Regions from separate parts of the Homo sapiens genome. Here region 1 is linked to region 2. The links come from fine-mapping of genetic effects on plasma protein levels. A gene starts in region 2. The other region holds a variant in brackets. All regions are shown on one strand. Distances are from middle to middle. Region 1 has its middle 310 kb from the start of CBLN1. Region 2 holds the start of CBLN1 (cerebellin 1 precursor).

What was found. PIP is the chance, under the fine-mapping model, that this variant and not a neighbour inherited with it causes the effect. Sun 2018 read protein levels with aptamers (SomaScan).
Region 1: its variant is fine-mapped to the plasma level of the CBLN1 protein (Sun 2018, PIP 0.95).

Annotation. Positions count from the first base shown.
Region 1 is chr16:48,962,232-48,973,021 of GRCh38, forward strand. No RefSeq gene overlaps it. Among named protein-coding and RNA genes, the nearest start is that of CBLN1, 310 kb to the right of the region's middle. RefSeq lists an enhancer at 1,062-2,261. The variant C/T (reference allele first, on the strand shown) is at 5,767.
Region 2 is chr16:49,276,166-49,286,955 of GRCh38, forward strand. CBLN1 (cerebellin 1 precursor) reads right to left here and starts at 5,673. Exons shown (of 3, transcript NM_004352.4): 1 at 5,037-5,673; 2 at 4,758-4,877; 3 at 1,752-3,436. The coding sequence starts at 5,300. The coding sequence ends at 3,239. It overlaps SYNAGE (synapse stability regulating cerebellar lncRNA), which reads left to right and starts at 5,897. Exons shown (of 4, transcript XR_933530.4): 1 at 5,897-6,067. RefSeq lists enhancers at 69-594, 1,648-2,174, 2,175-2,699, 4,777-5,394 and silencers at 5,747-5,856, 6,227-6,326.

The DNA of each region.
Region 1 (10,790 bases), 310 kb before region 2:
TGAGGCTTTAAGCCTCAGGCTTCCATTATTAATTAATTAATTCATTCATTCATTCATTTGCTCATGCAATGAGAATGCATTGAGCACCTACCAGGCATCACGAACAGGGTAAGACCTCAGGCTTGGTGCCTCCTTTGACCTTAGTATCCTTCATTGCCCACTGTGGTCCCTGGCTTGGTGAGACCTCCCTGCCTTACCTTGTCTCTTCCCATCTCTCTGGGGTCCCAGCCTGGCCATTTCTAGGCTCATATTATGCGGGAAGGGTGAGGAAGGATTTGGAAATATGTGCCTCATTTCAGTAAAGGCTCTGTGGTCAACTTCAGCTTTAGCACCTGGGAGTGAGTCCATGTGTGTCCCTCAGATGGGATGGATCAGTTTGGGTGAGGGGATGGGAGAGAAAAGATCTGCTATCTTGGGTGCTGATTAAGGCAGCTCAGTTTGGGGTGGCAGTGAAGGTGGTCCCAGGCACCTAAGTGGAGGTGAGGAGCATGCAGGTATAAGTGAAGCATGGCCTGGTGCCAGTGGCTCAGGCCTGTGATTCCAACACTTTTGGAGGCTGAGGCAGGAGGATTGCTTGAAGCCAGGAGCTTGAGACTAGCTTAGGCAACATAGGGAGAACTTGTCTCTACAAAACAAAAAACAAAAAAATTAACCAGGTGTGGTGTTGCGGATCTGCAGTTCCAGTTCCAACTACTTGAGAGGCTGAAGTGAGAGGATTGCTTGAGCCCAGGCGTTCGAGGCTGCAGTGAGCTATGATCATACCACTGTACTCCAGCCTGGGTGACAGAACAAGACCCAGGGAGGAAGGAAGGAGGGAGGGAGGGAGGAAAAGAGGGAGGAAGGAAGGAAGGAAGGTAGGAAGGAAGAAAAGAAGGAAGGAAGGAAGGGTGAAGAATAGGACAGCACAATGCAGGCCTTAGTGGAACTTAACCCTACCCTCCATGCATCCATCGAGGCATGATGAGGGCCTCGCTGAGTCCCTAAAAGGGTCTATCTCCTATGCCTTGTCCTGCTTGAACCATCTCAGCCTTCAGAGCTAACATCATTATTTCAGTCCAGATTATGTTGGATTTAAATTTCTTCTTTATGTCAAAGCCCAAGGAAACAATCCCAACAAGCTGTCACTTAAATCAGAGGAGATTTATTACTTTTAACCAGGGAGAAGCTTGTTACCAATGGAGCAGCTTAGATGTCATGAAGATGGGGGCTGGGCTTGCAGTGCCCTTGGCTGCCTGTCAGGGGCTCATCAGTCATCAACACCACTCATGCCTTTGAGGCACAGTCATCGAGGGTGAGACAGGCTTATGACCCTTGCCGTGGAGCCTTAGAAAGAGAACTCAGGGTCCTGTCCTCAGAGGGAGAAGGACTTTAGATCTATGCACTCTGGCCCCACATGTCCTCTTGTTCCTTAGGATTTGTTTTCTCATTTCTGCAGAACTAGAAGACTCTCATTTAAAATGACCCTGGACGCTTATTCTGTGGTCAGTCCAAAGTGTGAGGGGGATGGAATTGTCCCTCCACAGGTAAGCCCTCGGGGAGGGCTGGCCAAGAGGGATGCTTGCTGGACCACAGGAAGATGAACAGGCTGGGATTGGCTGTTGCCCTTCACAGTGCTTGTGGATGGTACAAGCTGACATAGGGAATTAGAAGGCATGTGCCGTGCATAGAAGAAGGGGGGTCTTTGTTCTGTCTTTGAGTGAGAAAGACACCTCTCCAGTATCTCTTTAGGCTATGGACCAGGGATATTCCTGGCAAAGGCTGTGGTGGGCACAGCATCCAATCATTCAGAATGGCAGATGCCAAGTTTTAAAATGATGTCTGGTTGTGTTTGTGCTGAGTGTTAAAAACACAACTGGTAGAGAATGCAGGAAGTCTCTTGGCATCTGGGAGTATCTGGAAATAATCTCTGCCTCTCTGAGTTGTGGTCAGGACTCAGACTTAATAGATAGGAAAGTGTCCTGAAACTGTGAGGTGCCATGTAAATGTAGTCTTGCTATTATACAGGAACAAGCGGGAGGAGGAGTTTAAACTGGGCCTTATCTCCTCTCACTAGGTAGGAAGGCCTCCTCCAAGGTCATGAATTCTCATCCAGGTCCTCATATGCCTGCAGCTAAACTCACAGTTCTCTAAGGGTAGGGGCCATGCCTTTCACCCCATTTAAGCATTCCTCAGTGCTTAGTAAAACACAAGGAACACAAGAGAGGCTCAATAAATACCTGTGGAATAAGCTCATCATCTGCAGAAGGAATGAACTGTGGAATTAAAACCACAATCTATTAAACAAAAAGGGCCATCCTTACAAATGTGCATGCCTTCAGGGATCCCACAAATAACCTACACAAGTGAGGTGGACTGGGTAGAGCAATAGGGAGTGGTGGCAACTGGGGGGAACTGGAGCACCCCAGTCTCTTCTCTTCAAGGCAGCTGCTTCTCTTCTTGTTTGTCACAAGGGAACATATACTCAATGATGCCAGATCTTCTGAGTATTTTTTTTAATCCTGAAATATACATTTTAAAAATAATGACTCTCTCCATTTTTAAAATGTAGACAACTAAATCAAATATAAAAATAAGACAAGTATTGTGTAGAGCACTCAGCACACCTGCCAGCCAGGCTTGGTGTGAGGGCCATCCTACAGGGCCTCACGCTTCTCCCACTGCTCCTTTTCATGGATGGGGAGACCAAGGCCCAGGGATGGAGAGCCACTTGCCAGAATGCAGAACTGGTGACAGCAGATAGTTGTGATGGGGAGGAGAGCAAGTGAGTGGTTGGGAGCATCCATGTGCCTTCTGGGAAGGTGAGATACCTTTCCTTCGCTCATGGGGGTCCCTGAATTTTGTTATTCAGCCCCCTCTAAGAAGGCTCTGGAAAGAGCAGCCAGGGCACCGGATCTCACTGCCATGAGCGGTTGTCTTTGTGCACTAACAGAACTCATCATGGGGCTTACTCGCCAGGAGGGCCTTGGCACCAGCAGATGGAACAAGAGGAAAAGCAAGAGCTGTGATGCCACAAAGGAAAGGGGCTTCACCCCATTGCCTTGGACCCAGCGGTCTGGAAACAGCCCTGCAAGCCCGCTAACTCTGTGTAGACAGATGAAGGAGGGACGGGGAGGAGGGACAAGGAAGCCCAGGAATGAGTGTAGCAACTGCCATGAGGTGGTCCCTCCCCAGTAGCCCCCTCCCCTCCATAGAGCAATGGCTTGAAGCCCAGGAATCATTGGTTTGCCCACAAATCCAAATGGGATGACATGCACATCGTCTGATTGGCTGAGAATGGCTTGTTAATTAGGAAATCAAATCGGGGCTGCACACTCAAAGCTGTTTGTCGGTTTGTGGGAGTTTGTTTACTTTGCTTTATTGAGTGGGTGGCTCTTGCCATCATGATAATAGAGAGCTGATAAACAAAGAAAACACAGGAAATCATTTGGCCTTCAGCCCAAAATGAAGGCTGGAGGGAACCAGGGTTTCAGTGCTGGAGGAGGGGACAGCAGCTGTTCTAGCCTGTGCAGGGAAAGACTCATCTCTTTTTGGCCAGAACAGACCTCTGGGCCCAGGACGCCACCCCTGCTTCTCATCACAGCCCGAGTCCCTGCTGATAATCAGGTGTGGATGTAGGCTCCAAGGGGAAGCTTGTCCAATTGTGGGATCCTCTTTAAGAAAAAAGAACACGAAATTAGATATGAAAGTGAATATTGATTTAGAGCAAAAAAAAAAAGAAATAATGAAAAAAACAGTTTAAAAGCTGACTTAGATAGTGCTAGTGGCTTCCTGAAAGCTATACAGCACCACAGATGGGCACCACAAACATCAGAAAATCCAAAAAATAGCATGACGTTTGTATTCATTAACTGCTGACACACCTCTAAAATATTTTCCAAATTCTCTCTATGTATTGGCTTTATACTCTTTGATTGCCTCTTCCCATGACAATGATTATGTGTCTATAGGGAAATTAGAAAGATCCTTTTGCAGAAAAAAACTTCCATTTTGATGAGGCATCAGCAAAAGCCAGCTTCTTCATTTCCCATTGCACATGTCTGAGGATTAGGGGCACAAGCCACAGACTAGCTTCTAGGACCTACACTTTCTCACTCTTTTCTGGGGTCGAGTGCATTTGGGCCTGTTCATCTCATGATGTGACCTCTGGCCTTGTTTCTTCATGTCATGACACAAAGGGAGCGAGTAGAGATATTCCTGGAAGTCATGCCTACACCAGAACAGCTGGCAAAAGCTAAAGTCTCCATGAGATCAATTGAAAACTGTGTAAATATATCCCCTTATGTTCATGCTAGATGTAACTCTGACACAACCTCTTCCCAGTCAGATCCCCAAATGCCCACACTTTCCCAACATCGCCTGGCAGGAGCACATGGCCGGGGAAAGAAATAGCGGAGTCAGCTGATGTGGTTCAAATACCTTGCTTTTGCAGGTTGTACAAAAACATCTGAACATGTGAGCCCATTGCTAGTGCCTCTCCTGGGGCCCTGAAAAGGGTCAGTACATGTGAGGACCCTGGAAAGGGTCAGTGTGAATGAGGGTCCTGAAAAGGGTCAGTGCATGTGAGGGCCCTGGGAAGGGTCAGTGCGAGTGAGGGCCCTGGGAAGGGTCAGTGCTTGTGAGGGCCCTGGGAAGGGTCAGTGCGAGTGAGGGCCCTGGGAAGGGTCAGTGCGAGTGAGGGCCCTGGGAAGGGTCAGTGCGAGTGAGGGCCCTGGGAAGGGTCAGTGCGAGTGAGGGCCCTGGGAAGGGTCAGTGCGAGTGAGGGCCCTGGGAAGGGTCAGTGCTTGTGAGGGCCCTGGAAAGGATCAGTGTTAGTGAGGGCCCTGGGGCTTCATCAGCATCATGGTGACTTCCCTTCCATTAGCAAACAAGCTCTGCCAACTCTTTTGGTTCTCCTCTCCTCCACCTCAAAGCTTCTCAGGGTTGGCAGAGTGGAATTCCGATTCCCAGCCCTGGCACAGGCTGGCTGTGGAGCTTTCAGGAAGCCACTAGCCTTATCTAAGCCACAACCACCCTACCTAGATGATGAGAAAACTCCAGTTGCGAAGAGAAGATGAGTTTTCTCCCTTCCATTGGATGCATCTTTTGCAAAGGGAAGAGCAGAATCAGGCTGAATAAGAAACAGCACCATTTTAGGAGCTGCAACTGACCTTTGAGATGACTTAGCTCAGTATTTCCCAAAGACTATTCTGTGGAACACTGGTCAGCTGTTCAGACAACAAAATGTATTGAACACCTGCTATATAGCAGACACTGGTCTAGGCCATACAATCATAGCAGTGAATAACAAGACAAGGCCTCTGCCCTCACCAAGGTTATATTTTAGTGAGGGGGTGGGGAAGGGAAGACCTTTGAAAAAAATAATACTGTTTCAGGTAAGGATAAATGGCTTGGAGAAGACAGTAAACCAAGGCTAGAATGGAGGTTGAGGCTGCTAAAGCAGGTCTGGGGTGGTGACATTTGAGTTGAGGCCTGGATCATGAGGGACAGCCGTGAGAAGCCCTACCAAAGGGGTGATCAGGTGGGACCCTGTCCACAGCAGTCCTTGCATGTTTGCAGGGCAGACAGAGGCCAGTTGTGCTGCAGCACAGAGGATAATAGAGGATAAGAAGAGATGAGTTTGGTAAGGGAGCTGGAGCCAGCGTGCAGGGCCTTAATCCCAGGTAAGGAGTTGGGATTTTATTCAAATGGAGCTGAGAAGCCATTGGAGGGTTTCAAACAGGGGTATGATGTGATCTGTGGTGAATTTTCACAAGATTATTCTCACTG[C/T]AAGAAGAGTCTTTTATATGGATTTAAGAGCACAGCTGAGACCAGTTCAGAGACCATTGTGTCAGTCAAGAGAGATTAGGGTCGCCGCGCTAGGTTTATAGAGGTGAAGGTAGAGAAAAATGGTTGGATTCAGGATGTATTTTGGAGGCAAAACCAACATGATTAATATTTGAACTGGCTGTGGAGTGCAAGAAAAATGAAGAATTCAAGGATGACGCCTAGGTTTTTATTTTATTGGTCTGAAAAGCTGGGTCAATTTTGGTGCCATCTGAAGGTTGAGGAATGTTGAAGGTCAGGGTTTCCATGTTGGAGCAGCTGATTTGGGAGGTACACATTGCTGTGTAACAAATTACCCGAAAATGTAGTGACTTCAAACCACAATAATGATTGATTGTTCTAACAGCTTCTGTGTGTTAGGGATTTGGGGTGCTTGCTCAGGGTGTCTGATGAGGCTGCAGCCTTTTGAAAGCCTGATTGATGCTGGAGATCTGCTTCCAAGGCATCTGTCTCACATGGCTGGCAATTTGGTGGACATCTCAGTTCTTCCCTGGGCCCCTCCAGGGGGACTGAATGAATGTGTTTATGACATGATGGCTGGCATCCCCAGAGGGAGCAAGGTGGAAGCTGCAAAGTTCTTTATGGCCTAGTCTTGCAAGTGACATGCAGTGACTTCTGCGATATCCCATTGGTCACACATGTCAGCCCTATTCAATGTACGAGGGGACCACACAGGGGCCTGAGACATCCATGCCCTTTCTTTGCACATCTACTGACCTGTTTCAGCTGCAAGTGACAGAAAACACAGTTCAAGCCAGCTTAAAATGAAAAGAAATTTATTGGCTTACACAAAAGGGAAGTCCAATGGAGGAGAGATGCCCGTTTTGTGGAGCTCAGATGGTGTCGTCAGAACTCAGTATTTATTCTTTTCTTTTCTTGGCTCCCATTCTTACATGGGCCAACTCCTGAAGATGGTGAGGTGGCAGCAGTCTCGTTAGCTTCATAGTCTCACAATGCCAAGTCAAGCTGAGAAGACAGCCTTTCTTTCCCAAGAGTTTGAACAAAACGTCCCAGACCTAATGACCATTCCTACTGACTGACTTAAAAGCCAGGATGAGGCAGGGCGCAATGGCTCACACCTGTAATCCCAGCACTTTGGGAGGCCGAGGCGGATTACTTGAGGTCAGGAGTTCAAGACCAGCTTGGCCAACATGGTAAAACCCCATCTCTACTAAAAATACAAAAATTAGCTGGGCATGGTGGCACACACCTGTAATCCCAGCTATTGGGGAGGCTGAAGCAGGAGAATCGCTTGAACCCAGGAGGTGGAGGTTGCAGTGAGCTGAGCTCGCATCATTGCACTCCAGCCTGGGCAACAGAGAGAGACTCTGTCTCAAAAAAAAAAACAAAAAAAAACCCAGGGTAACACTGAAATTTCATGGAGATAGGAAGTGGGGCCAGATCTCCCAAAACACATGGATCAAGAGAGAGACAGAGCTGTCTCTGTGTTCTGCAGACACTGTGGTGGGAGAAATCAAGTGCTCATCCATATGGAGCTCACAGTCTGGTGGGAGAACAGATACATGCATATATGAATAATTAACATACGGGTGAGAAGTGCCATGCGAAAGGGGCCAGAGTGTGCTTCAAGAGGACCTGAGAGAGGCACCTGATTCTGCTTTGGAGATGGCTCTCTGGGTGAGGTCACACCTGAACTGAGTCTAGTGGTGTAAGAAATCACTGCATGAGCAAAAGTCGAGTCAAGAAATAGCAGAGTGGGGGTGAGTGGAGGACTACAGCCAGTTCTCTGTTTTTAGAGGGTTACAGCAGAAGTGACAGAGAAATGATCTGGCCTGGGAAGCTAGGCTTGGACCACTGCCAGGCTTGGGTCACCCCAAAATGCATGTGTTGGAAACTTAATCCCCAAAGCAACAGTGTTGAGAGGCAGGGCCCAGTGGGAGGTGTTTAGATCATGCGGGCTCCACGCTCATGAATGGATTAATGCTGGTTATAAAATGGTTTGAGGCTGCAAGTTTGATCTCTTGCTCTTTCTTTGCCCTTCTGCCATGGGATAACACAACAAGAAGGCCCTTACCAGTTGCCAGCCCCTTGATCTTGAACTTCCCAGCCTTCAGAATTATGAACCAATACATTTATGTTAATTATAAATTACCCAATTTCAGGTTTCTGTTACAGCAGCACAAAACAGTCCAAGACAACAAAGTGCCTTGCATGCCACAGTGAGGAATTTGGGCCTTTTCTTGGGATGCTGAGGAGCCTGTGGTTAGGCGGTGGACCACCCCATCAAGTTTACATTTTCAGTAAGTTCCTCTATCAAAGAGTAGAAGCAGATTAGCCAGGGCCAGGGCTGAACTTGGGGGTTGGCCAGTGAGAAACCGCCATGGTGATGGTTGAGGCAGGGGGTAGGTGGGTCTGAAGGCGAGCGGGCCCAGTGAAACGGATGAGAAGCTGTGAATTCGGAAGGCAAGGTGAGATCACCAGCCAGCACTGGTGATTGGCTGAAAGGGAAAAGAAAGACCCCTGGGTTCCTCGGGCTGGATAGTGGGTGAGGAGGGCAGAAGTGAATCCATTTCTTGGGAGCTGCAAGTCCAGCTATCTATGCCTGTCCCCAAAAAGCCCTGGCATGTGTCCCAAAGGGTCTTTACAAGGAAGTCCCCTGCAGTGCTCTCTGTGACTGAAAAAAATAAAAGTAGAATACAGCCTAAATGTCCTGTGATAGGGAATAATTAAATTAATTACGGTATATCCAGCTTGTAAAATAATATGCAGCAGTTTAAAAGGCTGATATTTACTTGAATAGGAAAAGAGTGAGTTGTCAAATGATATATTGACTATAAAGTCATTTAAGTAAACAAAACAGACAAACATGCATCTACATATCTATATGCGTGTGTTCACATGCACATGCCTTTAAAAAGATCTGGCCTCATGCAAACCAATCAATAATGGGGCTCCCCTCCAAGGAGGGGACTGGGGATGGGATGTGGTTCAGGGGGTCTTTAGCACTCTCTCTAATGTTTGGACATTTACAGTAAAATGGCTATTGAGTTTAGGGGCCTATAGTACCCCAAGTGGAGAAGTCCACCAGGCAGTTAGATATATAGTTCTAGGGCTTAGAGAAAATCCAGATTGGAGGCTTATTCAGTAGGTCCATGTTGCAAAATGCCATAGTTTCAGACTCTTTTAATCAAGACCGCTTTGGTTGCAAGAAACAAAACCACTTAAGCTGCTGTACAGCAGAAAAGGGAAGATGCATTATGAGGACACAGATCTGAGACCCCCAGGCAAGTAGTTTCAGGGCCAGGTCTCAGCAACATCTAGAACCAGGAGCTGCAAATCTACCAGGGATCCAGGCCGTCGTCCTGTGATGTGTGCTCTCCTTCCGGTCTGGGGAGGGCTTGTTAAAGATCCTTCCCTGGCTCAAAGCAAGGGGTTAGCTTAGATGGGGCCTTTCCATCCCTCCCAGCCCCAGAATTCTAGAGGTTATAAACTATGTCCCTAAACCTCACAGCCTCCCCCTCCCCAGGGGGAGAAGACCCTCAGCCCCTCACCTGAAGCAACCAGGCCGCCACCTCCCTCCTGCCAGCCCTGATCACAGCAGTGTCTGTGCTGTCCCCTGGGGGTGCCACACAGCTTCCCCCGCTCCTACCTCCTCTGTGCTAATTGAGCCCTGGCTTGGTTGCATCTGCTTTGCTGGCAACTTCATAGAGACTAAAGGGAGGCATCAAGGAAAAGGGGGGAAGCTGCTGGAGGCTTTCCTGTGACTCACTGCTAATAAAGTTGATTAGACTGACAAGTCTCTCTTGTCTTATTCCTGACAGCTTGTGTCCTCATTTTGATTTTTCACCACCACCCCTACCTGAGTCAGGAGTGGAGATTAGCCCAAATTAAAGCTCTGGTGACTCAGGAGAGGTGAGACGTGACAGCAGAGGGGGCTGAGGGAGGGGGAAGGTGGGCAGCTGACGCCTCATGGGTGGGATGTGGACAGGCCCAGGCAGGCCTCCTGGAACCAGTGAGGGTGTCCCTAGGATTGGCTTTCCTTCTCTCCATCTAGGGAGCTGGGAGGATTGGACTGTTTTTTTATCTGGCCATAAAGGGAAGAAAGTCCATGAATAAAGCTTGTGGGTGTTTTATGTGGCTCTGCCAGTCTCAGGAGGATAATAAACCTTAATCAAGACCCATCTCTACAGACACCTGGGAACGTGAGAAAAATTATCTCCAATATGAAGTTGTACATTCTGCCCTTGTCACCCTCTTTAAGAAGTACTGGAGCTGGGGCTGTAACCCAGCGGTTTCTAGGTGTAGGCTGGCCAGAGGTGCACAGGGCTGCTACATGTAAGCCCCTGGGGGTAGCATGGAGCCTTTCTGCAGACCCTCCATGAAGGCCTTCTTAAAGGTTCCTGGCTGCTTACAATTCCCAGATTTATCACTTAGCTGCGAATGTTGGCAATTTGACCCCAGGCTTTCTGTTTCCCCCGGAGAATCTCAATACCAGAGACCTCTCAGATCGCTTCAAAGAGCACAGATAGTGTGTGCTCCATCACTGGAGGTAATCAAGCTGGTCTAGGCAAACACTTGGAGGAGACTTGAGTAATGACTCTGAGATTCTTTCCCAAGGGGGCCTCTGGGACATGGTCATGAGTGGTGCAAGGTTAGAGACAACCAGGTCCATGCATGTTTTTGTCTTTCTGCAATGTCAGGTTTTTATTGATGCTGCTTCAATCACAAAAGCCATAACCTCCTCTTCAGGACTTCTCGTTCACTCAGGAGTCAGAGCCCACAGGCACACAGGATCAAGCCATTCTTCAAGTCAGTCAATATTGCAAACCATATATAATAGTATGCTTAATATACACATGTTCTAGATTGAACATTCCACAGTAAACAAAATAGCATTTAACACGAAGAGGAAAAAGGAGAGTAAAGGTTAATGAGCCAGTCCAGGGAGAATGAAGAAAACAAAAGGAGTCCTTGTCTGGTACTTCTTCCATGGGTCTCTCTGTCTG
Region 2 (10,790 bases):
CCCACATCTCCCCAGGCCCTCTGGGGCGTGGACGCCAGGTTAGCATGCTAAGGGCTGTGTGGGCTGCCTCTGCCCCATGGAACCCACACAGAGTAAGAGACAAGCTCAGCCCCAGATGTCTCCCTTCCCAACCAGCACAAAACAAGGCCTGGTTGGAAGGTGCAGAAGGGGTGTTGAACCTCGGGGAGCAATGCCTGTATGTGTGGGTAGAATATCTTCCCAGGGGAGGCAGCCTTTCAGCTGGACTTCTTGGGTCCTCAGCAGGATAGGATTTTGCAAAGCGGAGTAGAGAAGGGGTGCTTCAACTTCAATCAGGAACAGCAGGTGTGGAGGCATAAAGACAACAATGGGAGGTGGAATCATCAGATGGCAAGGGAAGGGGTCAGCAGGTGGAGAAAGAAGAGGGAGAAAGAAGAGGGAGGCTAGAGCCCAATCAAGAAGGTTCTCCGATACTAGGTTCGGACATTGTGGGAGGCAGGGATCCTTTCCCAGGAAGGAGGTCTGCTGAACTACAGCAGAATCAAAGGAAAATCAACCCCTCTTCTTCGAATTTGGGGACAATTCACTCCCACTGTACTCACTTTCCAGGCTGCAGAGCTAGGGCTCAGGAATGAGTCCCAGTTCCAGGATGCACAGGCTTCCCCTGGCCTGCACCCTAGCCCGAGGCTTAGCACTCAGGAGCTGCCACTTGGCAGCCAGGTAAGCACAGGCTGCAGCCAGGACTCACTCACCCAGGAAAAAGAATCTGCAGACTCCCGGTCTGGGAGCAGAGGAGGGCTGGATCCACAGAGCAGGAGGAACTCTGAGAGGTGTTTAGATTTCTCCCTGTCTTTATATAAATGGGCAAATTTAGGACCTGATAGCGGACTTGCCAAAGTCACTCCACCGGGACACAGCCTGGTGGCCCCACAGAACAGGCAGCCACGGAGACCAGAACCCTGGTGGTTCTTGCCCTCAGGAAGAGAGGTGACCCACCCACCTGCAGCCCAGGGAGCGCCAAAGCGTACAGGGGCAGCTTCCTTGAGCGGTGGCTCTCCAACCTTCGCGGCCCTACAGCCTCAAGCTTACACGCACCCTACTGACTATAGGGTCTCCACAAGCCCGGAGGGCTGGCCCTGCAACGGCAGAGCTGCTGGGTGGAGCTAGTTTCGCTGCCAAAGGCTCCAACTGTCTCCGACCTCTCCTTCCCAACCAGGAGACTTCGGAGAAAGCGCGTCTCTTTATTAAAAGCAGTTTTTCTTTAAATCCCTTTAAGGCCCCTTATTTCTTCTCATTCACACTTCCCTGGGGCCTAACAGAGTAGAAGGGAAACTGTTGGGCAGAAACAGAAAAGTACTCGGGTCCACTCCTCACTCGCGAAGTCCCTATCTATCTCTGTGGGTCCCGGAGGCACAGGGCTGCAAGGGCGCCCGCTAGAGCTGCTCCACGGCTTACCGGATTGCATGCGGAGAAGAAACGGGCCCGGGTTTCAACAGAGGCCCCGTGCTCCGTGAATTTCTAACTCGAACCAGCCGCTGGGATAAATCCGAGAAACGTTGTTTATTGTGCTATTATTAACTTTCCCTTCTCCCCACGCCCCTAGAGGAAATAAAATTCATTCCTGAATATTGGGCCAGGAAAACGTTTCTCTGAAAGGAACCACAACTGCAGGGGACCACCCGGCTGCAGCTCCCAGCTCCCGGCCCTTCGCCCTAGGCTGCCCACTCGCTCCGGCTCCCGACCTCCCCGCTGCCGAAGCAACTGGGTCAGCCTTTCAGACTTAAAACGAAGTCGTTTATTTCATTTTTGCTTTCACATTATGTTCCGATACAATCAAAACTCCTGGACGAACCTCTTGAATAAAGTCCTGTGAATGAGCGGAATCATAGGTCCTGGGCGCCCGAGTATGCGGCGGGTGGACTCCGGATTCAGAGGCGGTGTATAAAACATACGCTGCTTCGGGAACTGCGAGGGGGACGCGGTGGGAGACATCCGGGGACAGAAGGCCTGAGGAGTCTGCCGCTCCAGGCAGGGTCGTTTGGGTCCTCAAACTGGGACTATTCCTGATGCATTTGGAATGCAAAGAAAAAAATCAAACTTCGCTCCTGGGCCGGCGGCCGCGCCTGGCCTAGCAAGATTTCGGCCACATTTCTTACGTTTCCGCCAAAGCTGTGAACACAGGCGAATGCAGTGCTGGTCCCCGGCCTGGCGCAGGAAGGAGCGCAAGGCCGGCTTTGCAAGGAAGCCCTCGCGCCCAGGCCTTTCTATGGTTGCGTTCCCCCAAGTCTCCTGCCTTTCGGAACCTCGCCCTTTGGCACCCCAGACCCCCAACCTCGCAGCTGGGGAAGATGCGGATTTTAGAAAGCTGTTTCAGAAAAATAAAAGTCCCACTTCGACTTTATTAGATTAAAGCAAAATTAAACCTTGACTATTCACACGTATGTTACAGAGGAAGAGGAGGCGTCCGGAAGAAGCTCCTTGGCGTTTCGTGGAGTCACAGAGCACGACGGCATTGACAAGCATCAGAACATCAAGCAGCCTTAGATTTCACGATCACTCCGAATAGAACATAGAAATACGGAAACACAGCCAGTTTCCACTGGGAAGAGTTCTTCGTATACAAATGATATATATTTATATTTTTTAAACCAGTCACCACTAAGGTGAGTCCTTTCTCTGCTAACAAGCAGCCGAGGATACTAAGTATCTTCAGCTAATTAATTTGAGCAGTGTTTTAAGAAGAGCAACACTTGCCAAATTAAAACTACCTTCCCCATCCAAAACAAAACAACAACAACAACAAAACTTTACCCCTTTCCAAACTGAAAAAAAAAAGGTTGGGGGTGTGTAATATATCAGATTTCAGTAGGCAGAAGGATTCAGAGGGGGCTAGGGAGAAAGATTTCAGATTATGTAGTGAAATACAAAGTTTCTTTAAATAAATTGCAGGGAACATGAAGTTGGGGGATAAGAAACAATGACAAGGCAGTCTCTTTCTTGATTACTGCAACTGGAATGGGGGAGGCGAGTTTATTTTTGGAAATGGGAGTGCGCAGAGCTAAGCGAAATTTATTTCTCCTAATAAGGAAATGGACAAAGTTGTCCCACAGCTGGCGCGCACCTTTTTACCCAGATACAGTTAGAGAACATGTAGGAAGTTTCAAGTCGTGCTGCTTTCTCGCCCTCTTAATTTCAGCCTCTTTCTCACTCCCCTTCCTGCCTTCGCCCTCTCCCTGCCTCCCTTCCGGCTACGAGCCAGTCAGAGAGGAAACACCAGGAATCCGGAGAAGGTCGAGTACTTCCAGCCCCCCATCAAGTTTCCCCGCTCCAGCTTGAGGTATGCTCGGTCGCCTTTCTCCATTTGGATTAGGACTCCGTTGCTGGCGGCCTCCCGGGTCACGTCCTGGTCACCAGCGAAGGCTGAAATCACCGGCCACCCGTTTAGCATGAGGCTCACCTGAGAAAGAGAAAGGCCCGCTTCAGAGGCGCAACCTAGGCAGGCACCGAAGCCGCGGTGGAGCGAACCTCCTCCTTGCTTGGCTAACAGCCTGTAAGGCCTGGAAGCACGGAGAGGTGGGGGGTGGGGGGGGCGAATGGAGGAAAAGGGGCTTTGCAGCTTACTGCTGAGGCTCCAGTGGGGCGAAAGACCACACATCTGGGTGACAGGAAGGGCCTGTCCCCAAAACGGGAGTTGCTCTTATTCCAGTTTCTCAAATGAGCGCGCCAAGCGAATCTCGACTGTGCTCTGTGATCCAATTTAATAAACCCATGAGGTGGCTCTAGCGCCCTGAGACCTTTGACCTCTCTCCCGTTTCCCCTCAGCCTCAAAAAACAAACAACAAACAAAAAAAACCCAGCAACTCAGGCTCCTTCTGGCGCTACCGGAAAAACAAAAACGAACAAACAAAAAGCCCCTGATCCCTCCTGGACCCAGCTGCCAGGACACAGTGGAGAAGCCACTGTGATTTGTGATTAGAAGTCTCGCACCGAGCGGCACAATGTATTTCCTCCCCAAACCACGGGCTCAATTCCCTCCCCCATCCAGCCGCGCCCGCCACCGCCTGGTTTTGCCCCTGTGGTGGCACCGTCAGCCAAGGGCCTCGCGCCCTCTCCCCAGCTGTGCGTCCCACCTCTCTCGGCGCCCAAGGGAAACCTGGACATCTTTGGGGACCCGGAGAGCCGGCGAGTGATTGCTGGGACACGGCTGGAGCCGGGAGAGAGTAGCACTACGCCCCCTCCCTCCCTCCTCTCTCTACCCCTCACCCTCCGGGGCTAAATGCTGCTAGCTCAAAAACCCACAGTCCGCACGGGGTGGGGATTGGGGACAAGTGGGAGAAAACGGGGGCCCCGTCCGTGGTGCTGAAGACAAGCACGCAAGCCGCATCGCAGGCTTCTGAGCCGGGGCAAGGGGTAGGGTGTACTGTCGCGGTGCTTCCTGGGGAGTCCGGGAAGGCTTCCCAAGCGGCAGCTGTCTGGGGCGCTAACAACAGCCGTTACAAGGAAGTCCCTGAAATCCAGGGAACCCTTCGGAGAGGCCCGGAAGGCAGAAGCAGAAAATTCTGTCTCTCGGGGGATGGGGCTGGATCCCAAGAGCCAGAGACAGGGAAAGCAGAGGACAGTTGAAGCCACAGAACTGAGAGGCCCCGCTATCTGTCCCTCCAAGCAGCCCGAAGTACATGCAGCCGCCACTTCTGCCTACCACCTCCGGACAGCCCGAGCACCCCTGAGGCCAGTAACCCCCCTACGGGGCCAGGGCCCGGCACGAGGCGTCGGCTGACCTGTATGGTTTGTCTGTTGTAGACTTTTACCACGTGGAAGTTAAAACTGTAGATCCCTTTGCGCGGGGCGATGAAAGTGCTGCGTTCTGAATCAAAGTTGTTCCCAATGTTCACTAGTACCTATAACGAGACGGGAACGAAGGGGAGTGGGCAGGAATCGGTCCCGGACTGTCGTCCCCGCGCCTCCGCAGAGCCCTTGGAGAGGACCGGGCATCGGTCTTCCATCCATCCCTCCTTCACCAGCCCAATCTGCACGCCGCGGGAGGAAGGAACACTCACCTGGTCGAAGTAGATGATCATGGTGCGATTACTCATCTCGGACGGCTCGTGGTTGGTGCTCCTGATGGCAGAGAAAGCCACCTTGGCGCTGCCAGAGCGCACAGAGATGCCCAGGGCAGTGCCCGTGGGGTCGGACGTGGGGTTGGAGTCGCACACCACCAGGCACTTGCCCTCCAGCACGATGGGCTCCGTCTCATTCTGCCCGCGGGCCGGGCCCGCCAGCCACGCAGCCCCCAGCAGCAGCAGCTCCAGGACGCCCAGCATCGCGCCGCCGGCGCCCACCCCGCCCCCCACCCCCAGGGCTGCTCGCGCCAGCCGCCCCCCCCGTCCCAGTCCCGCTCCGAAGCCCCCTCCTCAGCTCCGTGCGCAGCTCCGCCGCCGCCGCTCTGGACACTACACCTCTTCCTCGCACTCCGGGACTAGCGTCCCCTCCGCGACTAGCGTCCCCTCCGCGCTGTGTTCCCGGAGCCCCTCCCGGGCCTCAGGGGTGCCGCGGCTGCCCAGCCGCACTTGGATGCATAGCCGCTGCTGCTCGGTCCCGCTGCTGCCGCCGCCTCCTGCCCGCACCCGCCGCTGCCGCCGCCGCCGCCGCTCTGAATTATTGATGCAGCCGGCGCTGCAGCCGGAGCGGGCGGAGAGCGCGCGCCGGGCACAAAGGCGCGGACCTCGGCCTGGCCCCGCCCCCGCCGCCTCCCGGCCCGCCTCCCTCCGAGGCCCTGCCCCCGCCCCGGCCGAGGCCACGCCCCCCAGCCAATCCTGACGCGCCGCGCTCCCCACCGAGCCAATGGCGGCGCTGTCCGCGCTCGGCCACCTGACCCCGGGCGCCGTTGTTATTAGGCGCGGCGAGGCGGGTGGCGCGCGGCAGCAGGGTTGGGCTCTCGCCGTGAGTCGACGAAGGGAGCGCGGGCGCGCGCCCGCGTCCGCGCACTGAGAGTCGCCTCGGCCGCTCGCTTTCTCGACTCCCGCCTCGCGCCTCGATCCTGTTCCGCCTCCCTCGGCCCTCCTGCCCGCCCCCACTCGTCGGCCCTCAGGTAGGAGGCGGCGCGCCCCGGGGTCGGGAGTGGAATCGCTGGAGGCTGCGAGTCGCCTGCCCGCCTGTGGGCGCGCCCGTTGGGAGGGGAGCGCCCCCCAGCGGGCGCGGGCGCGAGGGCAGCCGGCGCGCTGGGCGAGCCTGGCTCAGGGTCCCGGCGGCCGGGGTGCAGGGCGCGTGCGCGCGCGGCGGGGCGGGGCCTGCGCGGCTCTGGCGGGCGCACGTGGTGCCCGGGAGCTGCTGGGCGGGCACTCACCGCGGGGACTCGGTGCGGAGCCGGGGCGCCGAGTGTCTCCGTGTCCCTCTGCCCCAGCCGGCGGCCGCGATGGTGGAGCTTGGCCTCTCGCTCTCTCCCGCCTCTCCAGCGACTGCTCTGCCGGCCGCGGAGGTCGGATCGAGCGGTCATTCATTCATTTGTTAATTCGTTCACTTATTCAGGGGAGATCATTGAACCCCTACGGAGTACCGGGTACTGGGCCGGGCGCTGAGGACGCGGGGCTGAGCAAAAGCAGCCGAGGCCCACCTTCGTGCCCCTTAAAACCCAGCGTGCGGGGCGGCAACGAGTACTGCTTTTCTGTTTTGCACTTAAAATTTACATTTTGCATCCGTACTTTTTATTTACTGTGCACCCTTACGGCATGCTTTACGCACCCGTACCTGCACCTCCTAGCCTTGAGTGTAGACACCAGATCCTGAGATGGGCGATTTTTCGAGAATAATTTTTACCCTAAGTGGATTTTCGTGCCACGCATGGACTTGGAACTACACACACGTAGTCCAAAACGTGAAAGTCAAAATGCAGCTTTGCCAAGTGGCAGGGAGAAAGGAGAGCTGAGAAGATGAGGAGAGGAAGGGCGCGCTCCAGGCTTTCCAGCCCGGGTGCGGTAGACGTAGCCCTGAAGGATGAACCCAGGCTGGTAGTAGGGCGGCGGGAGGGCGGGGGGACCTGTCAGTCAAGTCCAAAGCAGAAACGCGGCGCCGGATCCCAGTCAGAGGCCGGCTGGAACGCTTCCCACAGGCTCCTGGCGCTCCGGTCCCCACCAGGCGACCTTGATCCTGGCGTGCTCAGCGGAGCCAGCGCAGCGTCGGGAGCTGGAGAGACGCGGGGCGCCGGCTGAGCGCTCCTGCCCTCTGCCTCTGGGCTAGCCTCTGGCCCGGCCTCCCGGCCTCCCCCAGGGTACGCTCTCCCCCAAGAGCGAACACCAGCTTTGGGATCGCCAGCAGCCACGTCTCTGCTTCTAGATCTCTTTTTTTTTTCTTTGAGACTTAGTTGATAGCTGTTTAAGGAATTATGTGGAGGAAATCTCACCTCCGACCCCCGCCCCCGTTGAGCACGGCCGGCCAGGGTCGCTGGGTGGGCCAGGAGGAAAGAAAGGGGCGGGGAAGAAGCAGCAATTTTACTTTAAATTAAAATGACACAAAAATATTTTTTCAACTCAGATCTTTCTGAGACATCCCCAGAAAGCGTTGCAAGCTGTGATTACACCTAATGTGAGAGCATGAACTAATTTAAGAGGTGAGAGCTGCATAATGAGGCTGCCTCCCGTGTAGCAGCCAAGACTGGCAGCTCTGGCGGCGCGCTGGAGGGGACCGGGAGGGGCACCCTTGTAGAACCAGTCCCTGGCGCCCTGGGATCTTCTCAGTGCCCTGGCGCTGTGTTGTCGGTCACTCCACAGATATTACAGGGTGCCTCCTGAATGCCGGGTTGCAATCAAGAGCAAGAGATGGGGCGAGTGAAAGAGCCTGTTTTCAGGAGCTCAGCATCAGGATGACGATTACCTAGAGGGAGGTGGTGGCCAGCCTCCCCCTCTTCTCTTCATGCTGAGGCTCTGGTGGGCAGTGCCCAAGCCTGAACTGCCATCTGTATGCCAGTGGTTACCCAACTTGTATTTTCAGTCTTAGCCTCTCTCTGGTCCAGACTTGTCATTCTAAGGGCCCTTTTTCACTGACTCACATTGTCTCCTCCCTCCCTGCCTTCCAAACTCAGCCTTTTCCTTTTTCCCTTTCCCACTGACAACAGCTGCACGACCCCCCCGCCCCCCCACGAGGTGAAAATTCCCAAGAACCCCATGTCTAACCTAACTCCCTCTCTATGTCCTGTTGCTTGAGCCATTCTCATTAGGCTGCCTGTTCGGAGTTCATTATCTCCTAATTTTTCATCCAGGAATTGATGAAGAATCACCTACTGCCTCTCCCACACACTGTTTATTCTTTCATTTGATGATATCTGTTAAGTGCCCTGAGATATGTAACCTCCACTTCCCTCCCATATAAGTGAGATTTCACGTTGATTACTTCCTTGGCTTTCCTCATCCCTTATCCACATAGCATGTGTTCAAAATAATGAATATTAATTTAATGTTAATAGATATGTGCTTTCCTGAATTGTGAGGATTAAATGAAATCATGTATATAGGGAGGAAAATCCATTAGAAACCTCAAAAGCAGTTATGTTTATTTTTGCTATTGTCACATTGTTAGAGTCAGAATTCTTTTAGCTGCAAGTGACAAAACCAACTCAAACTGGCTTAAGGACTTTATTGGTTGATGCAAAAAGCCTCGGGTTAGGTCTTGCCATTTAAGGTAGGGCTGGATCCATCAATCCGGGTTACCAGGATCTGTTTTCTAGTTGTGGCTTCATTTTCAGACAAGTTGTTTCCATATGATAGCCTCATAGAAGGTACTACCAGCTTAGTCCTAGCAAGAAAAAAGAGTACTTACTCTTCAATATTTGCAGCAGAAGTCCCAGGTCTGTTCTTATGAGGGCAGTTTGAGTCACTTGCTCTTCTCTGAACGTGGAGAAGGCACTGTTTAGATGATGGAGGTTGGATTCAGGTGCATCCCCTGGAATGGGGTTTGGCATTAGCTTCACGTGGTCTAGAATAAAGGGGTTCTCCAAAGGAAAATTAGGGTAGGAATGCTGAGTAAGCAGAACAAACAGATGTCTACTTTAGTCCTTCCCAAAGGGTGAGCTGCAATACATTGCAGACTATCAGAATGGTGATGAACACGGATGCAGTAGCCAAGAAAATAGATGTGTGTTTGTCGTGGTCTTTTTCAGTCTTCAAGATCTCAGTTAAACATGAAGTCAACCACTCACTATGATGTTATTTGAGGTTTAGCTTTGAAGTGGAAATGTACCACAAATAGTAGAGCCAGATAAATACAAATAAATAATTTTAACAGTCCATTCTAAAAGATTTCTTTGGTAATATTCTGTTGGAATTGATTTCTATCTTTTCATTTGTTAGGTTCCTGGAAAGTGAAAATTTCATTTCTTTGTGGACAGGTACCTAAAATGTCTCATTATTCATCAATTAATGAAAAACAAATGAAAATTTGAGAGAGATATTCTGAAGAATAAAAGGATCAAGTTGGGTCATTTCTAAAATGTAAGATTATAAGGTTTAACTTGCTAAGACTTTTGAGGGGTTGAATTATTGGTAAATTATTATAGAACCACTTATCTGAGGCTTTTAAAAGTGATGTGTTACAGAGATTTAGGGAACTGCAAGATTGCAGATAAAGAATTTATACTGTCAACTGTTCTATACTTTACCTTCTGCTTTAAATGCGGCCTTATATTTTGAAGTCAAACATTTATTTTCTCTCACTGCGTTCTGAATTTCCTACCACAGTGCATTTTGAGAAATGAATATAACAGCAGTCTTCATAGATGCCATATTCATGGCAACTCTGTCCCCCGCCAACACCACACCCTGGAAAAAAACCAACTTTCTATTGTTGGAATGAGGTAACATTTTCAGGAAAAGGGAACCATTTTCTCACAGGATATAGAACAAATTCAACCTTTTATTAAATCAAAATGGATTCTCTAATGTTTATACATATCATATAGGATTTCATCTCTTTCAATCTTGGTTCAAAGGCCCAGACAGTACCATTCCCTAGTATTTAGTCCATTTGCTCATAAAGCAGAAGAGAAAAGCTACTTTGTTCCGAAGGGTGTTAGATTTAGGATTCCAAGGTTATTTCAAATTAATGCCTGGAACTAGACTATAAAATGCAGGAAAGATTCTAAGTTGTTCAAAGATGAAATATCTTAACTTTCACCAAAAACTCTGTCTTCTGGGTATTTTTTGTTTTTCTGCCTTTCCAGATTTATTTTAAATACAACATTTTTGCTGTTTACATTTTTAAAAGTTACATTTCAAAATTGTTCATAATTGGACACTTTCATAAAATGTAGGCAAATGCAGTTTTACTTTTTAATGAAGGACAAGTCTGTTGATAACATTTTGATTCTTAAAATTTTTTTTATCTTATAAAAATGAAACAATGCATTTAAAGTGTCTTCAGCTCTTATGTTAATACCAAATTATACATTTTCTTAGCCCATGTTCAGGAGAGACAATATATCTTCCAAATTAAGAGAAGCTGGCACCATTTTTAAAACAAGGCCTTGAATCTGCTGTGGTATGTGCTGGTAGGAATTTTGTATGAAGCTGTTATTGAAGTAGATGACATTAAGGTCAAAGGAAAAAAAAAACAGAAAATAATGTAATCCTACAGAGCTGCTCTTAAGATCTTGAGAGAAAAACCACGTAGGTAACATCAAACACTAGTTGGAATCTTTCCAAGAAGTAATTATCTGTGTGCTGTTTGTGGTGGTTGATTATGGGAACAAACCAAGGTTTAGCCAATTCAGCAAACATTTATGGAGTGCCTGCAATGTGCATGTCACTGTTTTAAGGCCTGTGCCT